2 separate regions of the Homo sapiens genome follow, and region 1 is linked to region 2. A link means that fine-mapping ties the variant in region 2 to the expression of a gene that starts in the linked region. Tissue or cell type: whole blood. Region 2 holds a variant in brackets; the other region holds the start of a gene. All regions are shown on one strand. Distances are between the middles of the regions.

The links. PIP is the estimated chance that this variant, and not a neighbour inherited with it, causes the effect.
Region 1: TUNAR starts here. The variant in region 2 is fine-mapped to the expression of TUNAR in whole blood (TOPMed, PIP above 0.99).

The regions. Positions count from the first base shown.
Region 1 is chr14:95,872,017-95,880,120 of GRCh38, forward strand. TUNAR (transmembrane neural differentiation associated intracellular calcium regulator) reads left to right here and starts at 4,816. Exons shown (of 2, transcript NM_001416131.1): 1 at 4,816-5,161. The coding sequence starts at 5,150.
Region 2 is chr14:95,749,040-95,757,143 of GRCh38, forward strand. It overlaps LOC107984703 (a long non-coding RNA gene), which reads left to right. Exons shown (of 3, transcript NR_148060.1): 3 at 6,206-7,740. Among named protein-coding and RNA genes, the nearest start is that of TCL1A, 39 kb to the left of the region's middle. The variant A/G (reference allele first, on the strand shown) is at 4,807.

The sequences.
Region 1 (8,104 bases), 120 kb after region 2:
CTAAAAATACAAAAAATTAGCCGGGCGTGGTGGCGGGCGCCTGTAGTCCCAGCTACTCGGGAGCTGAGGCAGGAGAATGGCGTGAACCTGGGAGGCGGAGCTTGCAGTGAGCCGAGATCATGCCACTGCACTCCAGCCTAGGTGACAGAGCGAGACTCCATCTCAAAAAAAAAAAAAAAAAAAAAATTAGCAGGACCAGACCACCCAGGAGGAAGTCCCAGGTTCAAGTCACAGGGTCCGTCAGGTATCAGCTTGGAGACTGAGGAATCCTCCAGATCAAACCCCCATGTACATGATAAGAGCCAATGAAATGTGGGAAATGAGACGTTTTGAAAACCTCAGAGCACTGTAAAAAAATAAAAAGTCATTAACAGTAGAGATACTAATTTTTAGAAAGGAAGGATGCTTCCAATCTTTCCTGAGCCATTTCTAAGGAAGTCCTTTCTCTCTCTTGGGTCCTACTACCCCCAACCCAATATCATACACCTGTCTGACTGCACTTCACACAGTGTTTCTTCTCTAAAAGGAACAATTAGGTTTGACCTTTCTCAGTGGGCTCTAATTTTTCAGTATTCGAAAGTCTTTGCAAGTGCTGCTCCTGGACTTGAAATATTTCTGCTCCCCAACCCCCAAACCATTTCCCTTTCATTTGATTGACTCCCACTTATCTTTCAGACTCATTTTAGAAGTCCCCCTCACCCCAGGAAGGCTTCCTCAATCTCCTAGATCCAAGGAAGGGCCTCTCTTTTGTGCAACCACATGACCTAATAAGTGCTCAATTAACACTTATTAAATGAATGACTGCACAAATGAATGAATAGATTGTGGATGCAATAGGCCAATATCTGCAAAAAGCTGGAAACAGATGTACTATTTATGTGTCTCATGCAAACATTACACTCACTACCGATTGCCAAGCCCTCTCACACAGAGGGACTGGTGAAGTATACTGTGTGCCTTGCCACGTCCCTGCAAAGTGTGGAGGCTGGTAGGGATCAGGACCCCACCGTCCTTATGAATGATGGGAGGAGACTCAGTCAAGCACAGCCACTAAGTCTTGGCTTGGGTAGCTGTCTGGAGGCTGGATCCTCTTACAGCTACCTGCTCCACTGTCTCACACTCACCACCCCATAGGCCAGACTCAGCAGATGGCCTTGCCTGCTTCTTCAGGGAGGAAACCAGCACTAACAGGAGGCATGGGCTCCCCTAGCTCCCTCTCTACTTGCCTCCCTGAGAGCTCAAAAGAAGGGCAGTCCCTGCACTTTTGAGACTTTTCTTCCACCTGTGTCTTTCAGCATCCCTAGGACTTGCTCCATGTCTTCAACTTCTTGTCTACCTGCCTTGGGTCTCTCTCAGCTCCTGCACACAAGAGCTGCTTGTTACCAGCTCTGGGATTTCCCCTGCGTATTCCTCCTGATTAGCTTGTTCTTGCTTCTGCCTTATCACCTGGCCAATATTTACGGATCCTTGGGGACCCAATTCAGATGCCACCTCCTCTGGGCAGCCAGCTGCAGTCCCTGCAGATAGGTATAGTCACTTTCCTCTATGCCTCCAAGAATAGTATTTGGTAACCTCTATAAGATAGGGCATAAAAATTCACACAACAACTATGAGGGTCTAGCGATGATAATAACTATCTTTTTATCAATAGCTCACTCTGTTCCAGGAACTATGCTGGAGACTCCACGCACACATCTCATTGGCAGTCCTAAGTCTCAAGCAGCCACTACCTATGTTACTATTGTTCTTTTTTTCCTTTAGCCTGGCAGACAGTATAGGAAGTTAGGAACTTGGGCTTGGGGTTAGGAAGACTGGGTTACAAATCCCCAAGTCCATCATTTGCCAGCTTCATGACTTTAGGGAACTTACATAACCTTTTTGAGCTTCCCTTCCCAAGCAAAGATAATGGACCCACTTTACAGGGTTTGGTGAGGTTAAAATGAGCTTTCCTAGATAAAACTCTTGGTACCTGGAGTTCCTGGCATGGGTTAAGCCCTCAGTAAAAGCCCCTATGAGGACCCAGAAGACAGAGGACTTATGTAAGTCATTTTTGCATCCCTGGTGCCTAACACTGTGCCTGACTTCAGTAGATACTCCTTACAAATTTAGGGTGATGTTCTTCCACTGCATTGCTGAGGAACAATCCCTGTGTGGCCACAGGGATCATGGGCTTCCTCAATCCTGGCTTTCCTGTGCACTCCCCACTTCCTATTATTTGAGAAAAACATGAAGAATGAATATGCAATGTAGGAGTCTTCCCTGCTGCCTTTTTCCCCATGCATACACACACCAATAAAAGATGTATGTGCCAGCTTTTGCTATGCTTAAACAACATTTTTCAAATCTCTGCAAACCATGAATGAGACACTTGTGCCGTCAAATCGCACTTCCTTACAGGCTGCTTTGTTTCCTGGAATAGTGGGACGCATGGAATCCAAGCTCTGAGGTTTCATTTATTGTAAGCACTGGGCTCCCTGACCAAATTAGGTGTCAAACTCTACCTGCAGATTGGGAAATTGGGGCTGAAGAAAGAGCCGGCAGCCAATTTGGCACACAGAAATAGTTCTTCTGGAGTTTCTGGGGACCACCTCCCTGTCTGCAACTACCCATAATAACTGGTTGGGAAATTCAGAGATATTGCTCCCAATTTCGCCGGAAAATGTTGGAATGCAACTGTTATACACAGGCTGGGATGCAAAGTGCTTTTCTCAGAAAAGTGTGGCCTTTGGACCCTGGTTTCTTAAGACACAGGTTTCTGTTTCCATGGACTTGCAGGGTTTTTCAATAGGAGTTACTGGCATCTCAATAATAATAATAATTGGAGGAAATGTCTTGTCACTAAGCCAACAAAAACCACTCAGACTCTGCTGTTTCCCAAAGCCCCTCATGGAGGGACTCTGTCCTGTAGAGCTGCAGGGCTGGGGTGTGGGTGTTCCTGGGCAGGCCTGATTCCCCTAAATCTCTGCTGAGTCTCTCCTCTGCATCTTTCTCCCCACATCCATACCATGAGGAAGACAGAAAGGCCAGCTAGGGAGGGTATGGGTTGGTGTTGTGGACGAGGTGGTAGGTGATTCCTATTCTGTAGCAGGGATGGGAGGGAAGCAGCCTTTTGGTAGGCAGGAGGATCTTCTGAGAAGTAGGGGCAGAAGGTTCCTTGCACCATCCAACTGGGGAAGGGGCACAGCGGTGGGCCCTGGGAACCTGCTAACCAGGATGTCTGGGTTCTTCCCCCAGCTCTGCTTCTGAGGCACCCAGCAGACCTGGGCAATTTGCCTCCTCGTCGATAGAGACCATGGTCGCTGCTTGCTCTGACCATGTTTCCCGGCACTTGCCTTACTTCCCTGGACGTTGGGGTGGATTTTGGTGAGGTCCCAGAGAACCAGGAGACAGGCTGCTTATCTTCTAGAAAATCATGTTCACATTCATGGAAGGCCTTAGGTACTAGTACTTAGCTATGACCTTTGGAGACAAGGACTCCATCTTCCTGAAGACGTTAAAATGTCCTGTGTACTGAAAGCAATTGGAGGGGCCTGGATTTGAACCCCAGTCTGTGTCAGAGGTCCCAAGTCTTCCAAGAAAGTGGAAGGCGCCCCGAGGCAGGTTAGAGGGCCTACAAGGCGGGCAACTGGACATGGGGATGGGCTGGGGAGGCGCCAAAGGGCGGCAGGGATTGGGGGTATAGTGGTTTGACCACGACTTAACTACCTTCAGCTGCCAGGCCATCCGCCTGTTCCCTGGAAGATATAAGGAGCTGGGAGTGGGGAACGGAGCAACCTGGGCTTCCATGATGAAGAAAGAGACAGCGCAGGAGCAAAATGTCCAGGAAGGAGGGAGAGAGACCAGAGGAAGGAGGAGGCGCCTCTTTCACCCGCGTCCCCAGGTCCCCATGTACGCCACGTGGGTGGGAGCGTGTCCCACACACCCGCGCGCCCAAAGCCACATTCGCCACGCTCCCGCCGGGGCGGGCTCACCGCGCGCCTCTGGGTGCCGAGCCTCCACAGGCCACATAGCCGCCACCTGCTGCTGCATCCCCACTGCGGGGACAGGGGCACTCAGTGCCTCCCTCCGTCCCCCCCGCCCCGCGAAGGCCTCCCATCCTCCAGGGCCAGGCGGAGGCCACGTCTTTCCCGGGCCCCCTCCCCAACGCGGAGAGGGAAGCGGAGGGAGGAGCTTGGCCCGCAGCCGCCGGCCCTCCCCGCACTGGAGCTCCCCCTCCCCTCCCTCCCCGCCCCTCGGCTGCCGCAGCCCGGCTCGCAGCGCGCGTCAGCGGGGGCTCCCCGGAGCGAGTCGCTAGGTAACGGGGCTGGCTCCGCAGACGCGGGGCCGGGGAAGCCCGCGCGCGTCATCAGCAGCGGCGCCGCGGGGCGGGGGGCGCAGAGACCCTCCCCAATCCCGGCCTGCCACCACCTGGCTCGCGCGCAGCCCCGGCCCAGAATGCCTTAACCTGCGCCGATTGCTGCCGCCGAGGTGCCCCTCCCCTGTAGGGACCCCGACGCCGCCAGCCCCTTCCTCCTTTCCCGCAGGTGCGCACTGCTGTGCTTGCGGCCGGGTGGGCGCCCCGCCGCTGCGGTCGCGGTCGCCGCTGGTAAGCTGCGCTCTGGGGCTTGGGGCAGGAAGCAGTGGGGGGCGCTCGAAGAGCAGGGCAGCTACGGCCACCGTGGCCGCCGGACCGGCCATGTGCTAAAGTTTCTGGGGCTCGGCGCCCCGCTGGGCGCGCAGCGCGGGGAGCAGACGCGCCGTGGGTGGGGCAGCGCGGTGCTGCTGGCGCCCGGCCCCCGCGGGGTGCAGCTCTGCGCGTTCTCATGCTGTCTCTCTCTCTTTCCCTCCGCGCTGCCTCTCCGAGGTCCTCCCGCCGAGCCCCGGCGCGGGGCATGAGGAGCCCCCGGGTGCCGCCCAGAGACCAGCAGGCTGCGCGCACACCTAGCCAGCGGCAGACGGGGACATGAGCAGCGCGCACGGGGTCCCGCGCCCGGCGGCCAGCCCTATCCGGCGGCGGCCAGCGGGTCAACGCTGCCCGGGAGAATGAGGCAGGAGCCGGCGGCAGCCTCCTTTTTTTCCTTCTCCTCGCCTTCCTGCGGCTCCGGCGCTCCGGGTCCGGGCCGGGCTGCGGCTCTGCTGCGTGCCCCGCGCGCCCCTCAACCGCCTCCGGATGCGCTTCTCGGTAAGCCAGGCCCTCCGCCTCGCGAACAAAGCTCCCTTCGCAGGGCCCGGAGGCCGCCTCAGGGCCCCTGTCCTACCCTCCTTCCCCACTTACAGCCTGGAAACATTCGGGGCTTCCGATTGAATCGTTCAATTTCCCCTGCCCCGAAGCCCCGCCTGGAGGCTGAACTGCCCGGGCAGACCTGGTGCTTTCTTCTGCCTTCTGGAGAAAGATGTGGGTTTGACATGCAGGCGGGAGACCTGTCTGGTCTAGATAACGGCATGTGTATGCAGCTAGGTTCAGACTTAGCATTTGGGGGCAACAACTCTTATTTAGTGGGTGTCCAGGCCGTGCCGGGCAGTGTGCCTCAAAGCCGCTCTGGGAAATAGGTCCCCGTTTCTCCTTGGCCCAGATGAGGAAACTGAGGCTTAGAGAGGTTGAATGACTTAATCAAGGTCACAAGGTTAGGAAGTGGGAGACCAGGATTGGAAACCAGGGTACCCTACTTCCCTGCCAGACTGTTCCCTTTGTAACAAACACACCTGTCTCATTTCTTCTACTAACTGCTTCCGTCTCGAGAGTCATTGCGTGTGTGTGAAAATACTTGCTCCAATGAGTATCTGTTCTGATGAAATAAATTGCCTGTAGCAAGCACTTTTTGTCCATCCTGCCATCACGCTGCTGCCAACCCCTAATGTGTACTCTACTTTTTAGTTCAGGTGAGAGGATAATATGTTTTCCTAGGTGTTCTCTTTCCTGGGGTTCTGTTTTCCCAGTCCTCCTGAAGGATGGAAAGGACAGTGGTTCCTCCTGTGTGCCCAGCACATGCTAGGCCTCAGAACTGCATCCTTAACCTTTCCCTGGGGGCAGGGCTCATCAAGGTTACCTGCCCCTGGTTTTGTAAATCTTGGAGATGATTACTTAACCGGAGCGGGGGCTGATCCCAGATGGCCACTGTGCAGGGGCTGGCCCAGTGTTGGCTCATATTTGCCAGCCCTCAGTGTCAGCAGAACTTCTGAGCCCCAAACACTTCTGAGCCCCAAAGAAAAGGAGTTTTAATGCAGATACGATGCCTGATGCATGCCCCCAGTTCTCTGGCTTGCCGCTGTTAGCTGTTTGCTTAAGTGCATTTAGTTAACTGTTTGCTTAAGTGCATTTAGTTAACTGTTTGCTTAAGTGCATTTAGTTCCTGAAGGGGCAAGCCACCTGGAATCAATTGATCCTGGTCTGAGGGGCTTGTTCCATTGGTGAAGTCACAGTGTTGAGCTCAGTTGTCTACACGTACATTTGTGTTGGTGCAGAGAAAGTCCCTTAGCAGTAGGGGCCTCTGTGTCTCTGTTAGTAAAGAGCAAGGGTGGACTGACCAGCCCTTCAGACCCCCTTCAGCTAAATGATTCTGAGTGACAAAACTAGTAAGTTACAGGCTTGAGCTAGGATGTCTTAGTCCAGTCATTTGGACGAACATTCTACACTGAATGGGTTGTTGATTTCCAAGAAGAGGACTTGGTTTCCAGGGAGCTGTGAGATTCAGGTTCAGCCCAAAAGAGGTGAAGCTCGAGCTGTGCTTAATAGATTATTTACTGGGCTAACACATAGTGGCTATAAAATGTTCCAAGCTACCAGATTGGGGTTGTGGGATAGGTTAGGCCTTTCAGTAGGAGAGATGACATTAGCTCCTAAGAACTGATGACATACAATGCATTAAGAAGATGCCCAGCAGGCTAGAAAGCAGCAAGCTGGTGAGCTTTTCCTGCCCCTCCAAAAATAATCAATCATATTTGCATAGGTAAAACATTCCCAGCACAAACAATTACTGCAAATAAATAAAGTGATTTTTTTTTTAGACTCTTCCAACTGCATTGTTTGCTGAGTATATTAGCGATGCGTGGAGCCGGCCTTAGCTTGGCTGCAGAGGGGCTGGGACAGGGAAGGTGGGCTGAAGGATGTTCAGACCCTGAGTTAGTTTTTGGCTGTGGATTAGAGCTAAATCCATCACTTTGACCTATGGGTCGTTAATGGGGTTGTCATTGGTCTTTTTAAGATGTGGATTAATGAACCTCTTAAAGTGTTGCCGAATCCCAAATGAAACGGGCATGTCCCACCTTTTTCCCAGAAACTCGGCTCTCAGCGGGTTTTGTGACTGTTTGAAATTCACAAAACCAGAGCAAAGCTTTCATTTTTGACAGGCTCATAGGGATCTGCAAAGGAAAAATAATGCATCTTATGTAGGGATATTAATCTCCCAGCATTGTGTGTTTTAGCTTCTCATGATTAACTGGTAAGGTTTTGAATAAAAATGAATGCAGAGAAACAATCTTCATTAAGTTGCTTTTGAAAATGCTGAGGTAATTATGAAATAACGATTTTTGTGTCATAGATCATACTACTCATAGCCAAAGCTGGATTACATCACAAAACATTACTCTTGTTACTGATATTTATTTTTTAATTCATTAGTTTTCTCATATTTTTTGCCTTTTTTCTCCCCGTGTGAAAATAAGCCATCGAGAATAAATTCTTCCTTTTCAGTTTTTCTTTGTCTTAAATCCAGTTTTTTTTTTTCTGTAAGATCTCTAAGCTGAACTCTTCCACACCATACATATAATGGCCTCATGTTAAAATATGTTTTAAGTGCCTTGGATTTCTTTTGGGAGAACAAGAGGGTTATGTATCGTAAGTAAATAACAGTGATGAGACATTTCCCTTGTTTGCTTACTCTTCTAAGTCAGGGCTTGAGACCATGCCCTCATGATTGCAGCTGCCACACTTAGCATCATGGGGACACAGCCTGAGTGCTGTGGCATTTCTGCATCAGTGAGGATGCACACCTGGACTGATCGGAGTGTGAGGAAAACAACAGCTTCCGTAGGCCAGGAAACCTGGGGTTTATTCCCGACTCAGTTGTTCATTGGCTTTGTGGCCTTGGGCAAATTATTTCCATTTGCTGGGTCTGGGTTTACATAT
Region 2 (8,104 bases):
TTCTGAAAAGCCATTTTTAAAAAAACCGCTTTGGTAAACACTGCTTATGGGCAATCCAGGGTCTTTGAAAGGTCTTAAAGAAGAGAGTGATTCTATAGGATTTATCTTTAACAGTGTGGAGAATGGATTTGAAGGAAACAAGGCTGTGTATAGGAGACCAGTGAAGCAAGGGTTACAGGAATTCAGGGGAGAGATGCTAAGGATACACAGAGCACTAGGAGATATTAGGAAGTAAGCAGTTTCAGAGACATTTAGGACATAAAACAATCAGAACCTGGAAATCTATTGGATGTGATGAGTGAGGGAAGGAAGAGTCAAGGATGACTTCCAGGTTAAATCAGGTTGATGGTCATGTCATCAACTAAGAGAAAGAGCACTTTGATATGTTGACTTTGAGGAGTCAATGGTATGTCAAGGAATAGATCAGGTATGCAGATAGATTTGAGTCTGGCTCATGGAAGAAGTTCGGGTTGATGATACAGTCTTTGGAGTTGTCTGTATTTAGTTGGTGATTTGAATAAGAGCCCCCAGACAAGCGTATGTGTAAAGTTAAAAGAGTCATGGTCTACTACTAAAACGTTAAGGAATAACTTCAAGGGGCAGAAAGAGGAGGAGGTACCTATGAAGAATTTTGAGAAAGAATGAAAGTGGTATGAGATAAACCAGAAGCTGTTGCTCCATAGAAGTCATGGTGGTAGGAGATTTAAGAAAAGTACAGTGACTCACAGAGTCAAATCTAAGAGACAGGCATAGTGAGATGAGGCATGGAGGAAGGATGTGGCCATTGGCTGTTGGAAGCTCCCTGATACCTTTCTGAGAGTGGTTCCAGGAGGGCAGTGGGAAGGAAGGCTGATTTTAATGGGCTTGGAAGTGAATGGAAGTCAGTGAATGTCATGGAAGGCAAGTCCTTTGACAAGTTGGGAAGAGAAAAATATGAGAGATGGGATGACAACTGAAGTGAGAAAGATCTAAGTATGGAGCCAGTGAAGAAGGGGAGGCTGAGGTGCAGGAAAAGACGGGACAATTTATGGAACAACAAGAGCAAAGATGGAATTAGAGAGTTGAAAAAGGACAAGTGGAAGGTTTTGACAACAGAGTAGGGAGCCCAACTGAGGAAAGACCATTAATTTTAGTATATTTGATCAATGTAGTTGCATGATTTTCCTCATGCTTGGCAATCTAGCATAGAAATAGAGAAGGTGGGGCACTGCATTGATGGAGTGATGGAGTTTCATCAGCTGGTTGCAGGGCACAAGAGAGGAGCAAGGGAATTAAGGATGTTGGTGAAAGAATGGCTTAGAAAGTCCATGTGGAGTAAAAGCACCAGAGGGATGAAAAATGGGCACAAACAATCCCAAAGACTGGGAGAAAAAGGACAGGCTGAAGGGGGAAGAGTGCTGATAAGGCCAATATGAAATAAAGTCTTGAGAAGATGGGATAGTTAGATCAGAGTATCTAATACTAGACATTATGACTTCAGAGGGAGGAAGGTCCCAGGGATGAGGAAGTAAAGGAAGTGGCTCAGAGAATAGATACTGAAAGGTCAATGAATTGGAGGCATAGGTGTTGCAGGGCCTGCTGCAGGGATGATGAGGCTAGAATAGATGACTTCCAAGGCCCCCGCTGGGTTTGCGATATAATGTGCTGGAAGGTGTCAGCCAGCATCTCCAGTGCTTGAGGTATACCTCCACCTACTCACTCAACATCTCACCCAGATGTCACACAATCACCGTGAACTCAACTGGACAAAAATTGATTTCATTGCATTGTCCCTGAAGCCTGCTTCCCTTCCTGTGCTCCCTCTCCCAGTTAATGGCCCACCACCTATTCAATAACTCAAGTCAGAAATCTCCCCAACACAAGCCTCATCATTTCTATCTTTGATATATCTCACAGTCCAGTGCTCTCCTCTTCGTGTCTCCCCAATACTATTACCACTTCACCCTCATGGGCCTCTGCTCTGTTACAGTAACTGCAGCCTGCCTGGTTTTCCTACCATGGAAAGCTGCCCCCACTCCCTCCATTCTGCCTTCAAGGTGCTCCTACAGTGATTCCCTTAAACTGTTACTCAGAGCATACCATTTTTCTGCTCAACAACAGAAGTTCGAACCCTTAACCAAGCATTCTATGCCCTTCAGTATCTGCTTCCAACCTCATTTCCAGCTTCATTGTCTGTATCTTCTATTCACACATCTTCAAGTTCCAGCCGAAGGAGTCTATCTCCTGTCCATGGCTTCTGAGTGTTCTAACTCTTTTTCTTTCTTCAGGCTGTTACTTCTGCCTAGAAAGTCTTCTACCTCCCCCAGTATGCCCTTTAAAATCCCACCCCCTTTTTTAGGACCAGTTCAAATGTCACCCCTTCCATTAATCTAATCTCCGTTTGCCTCTCTCCAACTAAAAGTAATATGCTCCTTTTGTACATTCGCAAAGGATTTTAATGAAACTTCATACAGTTACAGCATTTTGTCTGGGCTTCTGGTCAATGCCATGCACATCTCACCTGCCCTGTAACGCTGGGAGCAATTGGGAGTGGCAGCCAAGTCTTCATGTTTTTCCACATTGCTTCCTTTGAGGTAATGGGGGGCCTGTAGTTAGAGCCAAGTGGGAATCTCAGCTTCACCGCTTGGAAGCTGTGTGACTTGAGTACGTTTCTGAACCACTCTGAGTTTTAGTTTCCTCAACCCTAAAACACGGATAATGATACTGACCTCCCAGCATTGCTGTGAGAATTAAATGAGGTAGCAAAGGCAAAGCAATGCCACTTGCCTGGCACATTGTAGGTGCTAACTAAACACCTCCTTTCCCTATGAAGTCATAGTTTTGAGTATGTGAAAAAATAAATGGAATGAAGGGAATCAGTTGTTACCTTTTGGACTCTCTTTTGGAGAGGACCTGTGGTATGGCCTGGATCTGTGTCCCCACCCAGACCTCAAGTTGAAATGCAATCCCCAGTGCTGGAGGTGGGACCCAGTGGTAGGTGATTGGATAATGGGGGCAATTTCTCCTGGTTTAACACATCCCCCTAGTGCTGTTCTTGTAATAGAGTTCCCAGGAGATCTGGTGATTTAAAGGCATATGGCACCCCCGACCTGGGCTTTTCCTTCTGCTACAGCCATGTGAGACATACCTGCTTCCTCTTTACCTTCCACCATGATTAAAAGTTTCCTGAGGCCTCCCAATAAGCCGCTATGCTTCCTGTGCAGCCTGCAGAATCATGAGGGAATTAAACCTCTTTTCTTTATAAATTACCCAGTCTTGGGTATCTTTTATAGCAATACAAGAATAGACTAATACAACCTGTTTACCAGGCAAGGGAAAGAAGCAAGGGGGTAGGACCAAAGAAGATTTCTCCTTTTTTACTTCCAGGATTTTCTTTAATGAACATCTCTTATGTTTTAAGTTAGAAAGCATTTCTATAAGTGTCTGTATATACACAAGAACATACATATAAGTATTTATATATATAAAACACTTGTAAGTTTATAAACCCTTATATGTAAGTATATATGTATACACGTTTATATATGTATATGTGTTTATATATAACATATATAAGTATATATGTGTGTTTGTAGACATATATACACACACACACATATATATATACACATATATATATACACACACATACTTATTTTATATTAGAAAAGCCTTTGTTCACTGACCATTCCAGAAATGTTTTGGGCTTGCTCTTGAGTTTTCATCTGAAGACTGCCAGCTAAGCCTGCTTTAAAATGATCGTCTCTCTGAATAGTCTTGAAGTTACCCAGATCCTCTATGGAGATCCCGCTCTCCCCTCATTTTCACATTCAATTTCCTTTCATTTTTCTCTAGGGCAACTCCTGCAATGAGAAGTTTTAATTGTTGTTCTCCACCAGGATAGGAAAGGGCACACAGAGCATGTTTAATATTTTGTTTTTCCTTTGGGAGTGGGTGATGGACGAGATGCATTCATGTGCTAATTCATCCCCAGATCATGTTGCTGCCATTCTCTTTGAGGTGGGGAGAACCATCATGCTGAGGATCCTGAGATATGCAGGGGCCACTCAAAAGCCCTAGAGAATGAGAGGTGCTGGGTGGGGATGGGGGCCAATGTGAGTCTGATGTGGGATGTAGCTGAAAGAATACTGGTGAGGAGACAGCCCCATCTGTGTTTGGTCCCAGCTCTGCTGTGTCCTTACTTTGTGACCTTAGGCAAATGCCTTATCTTTCTGGCCCTCAGCTTGGTCATTGGGAACATGAGAGCACAAACATCCATTTCCTAAGCCTCTTGGAGGGCTAAGCAAAGGTCATTAAAGACCCCAGCCAAAACCATCATTCTCAGCAAACTATTGCAAGAACAAAAAACCAAACACTGCATGTTTTCACTCATAGGTGGGAATTGAACAATGAGAACACTTGAACACAGGAAGGGGAACATCACACACCGGGGCCTGTTGTGGGGTGGGGGGACAGGGGAGGGATAGCATTAGGAGATATACCTAATGTAAATGACGAGTTAATGCAGCACACCAACGTGGCACATGTATACATATGTAACAAACCTGCACGTTGTGCATGTGTACCCTAGAACTTAAAATATGATTAAAAAAAAAAAAGGAAAGAAAAAAACTCATAAAATAAAAAACATCACAATTGTAAATAAGGACAAAAAAAAAAAAAAAAAAAAGAGAGAGACCCCAGCCACAGTTTCTATGCATGAAGTAAAGGCTCGATAGATGAAATCCCGGGCACCCATGGCTCCTCATCTGACTGGAGAATATGCCTTTTCAGAGAATGCTGACATTCACGTGACATTCAATTTCA[A/G]GGCAAGCACCTACTAGGCATGTCCAGATGATATGGACATGTCTGCCTCTGTCCTCAGGACATGACAATCTAGTGGAGCTTGGGGAAGGATGAGGAGATATTGTCAGTCCTCAAGTTCAGAAGAGTTGGCTGGACCGAGCAGGGTCCTAGGGAGTGCGTCGCAAAGGCGGCAGAAGACTCCAGAAAGCAGCAGGAACAACCCATGCCCAAGATCTGACGCCAGAGGCATAGGCTTTGTTCCTGAATATTGACATCCTTCATTCACAGATGAAGAAACAGAGGCCCGGGAAGGTTCAAGTGTCCTATCCAAAGACACAGGTTCTGCCTGACATACGGAACTCAGTAGCCACTTCTTGTATAAGTTAGAAAACTGTGATGATGCTCTTACTGCCAACTGGTCTTCAGAAGGTTTCTGGTCCTCCCCACCCTTCCACAATCCATTCTTCCTACTTGATTGCATCATTGTCCTAAGGAGCTGCCCTCATTCCTGCATGCTCTGGTGCAAAGACCTTTAATGGACTCCCACAGCACATGCGAGTCCTGGGGACAAAATCCAGGGCTCTGCAAAGCCTAACTTCAACTCACCTGCCCAACCTTACCTCTGATTACAAAGTTCTTCTTGGTGGTCTCCTCCTAAGCACTCTAGGCTCTGGATTGCTATAACCTTTCATCTCACAATCCTTGTCATTTCCTTCCTCCATGCCTTTGTTTATCTTAGTACTTTTCCTCACCATTTCCTTTGTTTTGCAAGCTCCTCCTCAGCACCTCCTGCCTTTGAAGTTCTAGTTAAATGTGACCTCCTTGGAAAGAACCATGTCCTGTGCTCACAAGGCACTGCCTGTCCCTCTGGAGTTTCCCCTTCACATCTTGCCATGGAGTGGAGCCATTTGTGTTCATTACTCACTCATGAGTGAGCTCCTCAAGAATGGGAGAATGAGGCTGATTTGCCTCTGTGACCCCAACTCCCACCCAGGGTTTGGCATGGAGGAGTTGCCCAGTATGCACTTACTGAATAAATAAATAAATGAGCATAGTTCCTGTTCATCTGCCAGGAGCTTGGGGTAAACAGGGCATGGTGGGGTGGGATGGGGTGGTTGACTGGAGGAATTGAGAACATATGAGTTGCTGAGAGGAGTGGGCTACAAAGGCTAAGAAGGAGGCTGGGCTCAGACAAGGAGCTATGGTGAGAATCCGGACCAGCCTGGGAGTTGTGTGTCATAGGTGCCATGATGGAGGTGGTGGGTAGACATCATAATGCCTGTTAGCATGTAATAGATGCCTATGATGTGCCCAAACTTGTATTGGATTCATCCCATGCCTTCCTTCATTTGCTCCTTATAATAACCCTACAAAGCAGGTTTCATTATCACCATCAGTTATTATTATTCTTATTTTTCAGACAAAGAATTCAAGACTAAACTGGGCATGGTGACACGCACCTGTAGTCTCAGCTACTTGGGAGGCTGAGGCAGGAGAATCACATGAACCTGGCAGGCGGAGGTTGCAGTGAGCCGAGATTGTGCCACTGCACTCCAGCCTGGCCACAGAGCGAGACTCCGTCTCAAAAAAAAAAAAAAAAGAAAAAAAGAAAAAAGAAGAAGTCAAGACTAAGAAGAGTGAAGTATGAAGTAATTCACCCACAGACACCCAGCTAGTGAGTGGCAGACCTGGAAGACAAACTAGTTCTGTTTGGCATCAGAATCTATGCTGTCAGCCACCTCACCACATTCATGTGACATCCAACAAAGTGGTGCCTTCACCTGCTACTAAGTCTTGCTAGGGCTAGTTCCAGAGCCAAGACTATGAAGTGGACAATGATCTATGAAGCGCTAAGTGAACAGATGTCATGTAAATAGCTTGGATCTCTACGTGCATGTGTGCATTGTATATGTTTACCAAAGACCTTGTTACAGTGTTTTTAGGCATGGCTCACTTTATAAAGGTCATCACAGTTGGCCAAGCTATCTGGTATTTATTACTCATTTGATACTCACACCTGCTCAATGATGCTGGTATCATTACTCTCCATAATGATTTTCCTATCATTTTACAGATGGGGTTCAGAAAGATCAGGTGGTAGATCCATAGTCACACTCTAGTTAATTGATAGGACTGAGAATTCAATGCATGCCCACTGCCTTCTCTTACAAGTCTTGGGGTATTTGAGTGTAATTCAATAATGACAACCCCTTCACTGTCCAAAAGGGGTGAATGAAACATCAAGCTGTCACAAAGGCTAGGTTGGAGGGCATGGCTTATATCCTTGGGTAAGTAGGCTTACTAAACTTAAACCCTAAAGTTGAACTGACTTAACTACCCCGTCCCAGCAGCTGGAGTGGGACAGGACACTGGGTCTATATGGAGAGGGGTCTGCCCAGATTAGCTTTAGGACGTGGAGAAGCAGAGAACTCATGTTCCTACAAACAGGTTCACTCTCAAGATAAAGACAAGGAACCAAACTCAGCCTGCCTGCTTCATTTTTTCATATTTGCCAATCAGATAAGTCACTTCCGCCCCCAGAGAGATTTAATAAAGGAGCAGAGAAAGACTTCTAATAAAATTCCCTCCATATGGAAGGAAAAGGAGACATCGGGAGTTACGTTAATCATGCTCATTTCTTAACAGTGCAAATATCAAGAGTTAGAAATTAGAGTTCCTGGCTGGGTGCGGTGCCTCACTCCTGTAATCCTAGCACTTTGGAAGGCCAAGGCAGGTGGATTGCCGGAGCTCAGGAGTTCGAGACCAGCCTGGGCAACACGGTGAAACCTTGTCTCTACTAAAATACAAAAAAATAGCCAGGCGTGGCAGCGTGCACCTGTAATCCCAGCTACTCAGGAGGCTAAGGCAGGAGAATTGCTTGAACAAGGGAGCCAGAGGTTGCAGTGAGCTGAGATTGCACCACTGCACTCCAGCCTGGGTGACAGAGCGAGACTCTGTCTCCAAAAAAAAAAAACAAAACAGAAATAAGAGTTCCCACATGACAGCAAGAATCACTGAAAATGCTGGACCCACTGTCAATGCTGTATTGTTGCAAAGAAAATGTTTATCTTGCCTAACTTTAAAGTCACACATGCCTGGGAACTTCCAACTAGAACACAGCTGGCAAAGCAGACACCCTCTCCCTGCAGCCTCGTTGAAAATGACCTCCTTTACATTTCCTCATTGAGAATCTGCCCAGTGAGGACTGTGGCAGAAGAGAGTCAGGGAGAATTTTCTAGCTGATTAGGGTTAGAAAATGAAGACGAGGGCTCTCTTGTAATCAGCAGGAAGCTATGATAGAAAAGAATGCCTTTTAAAT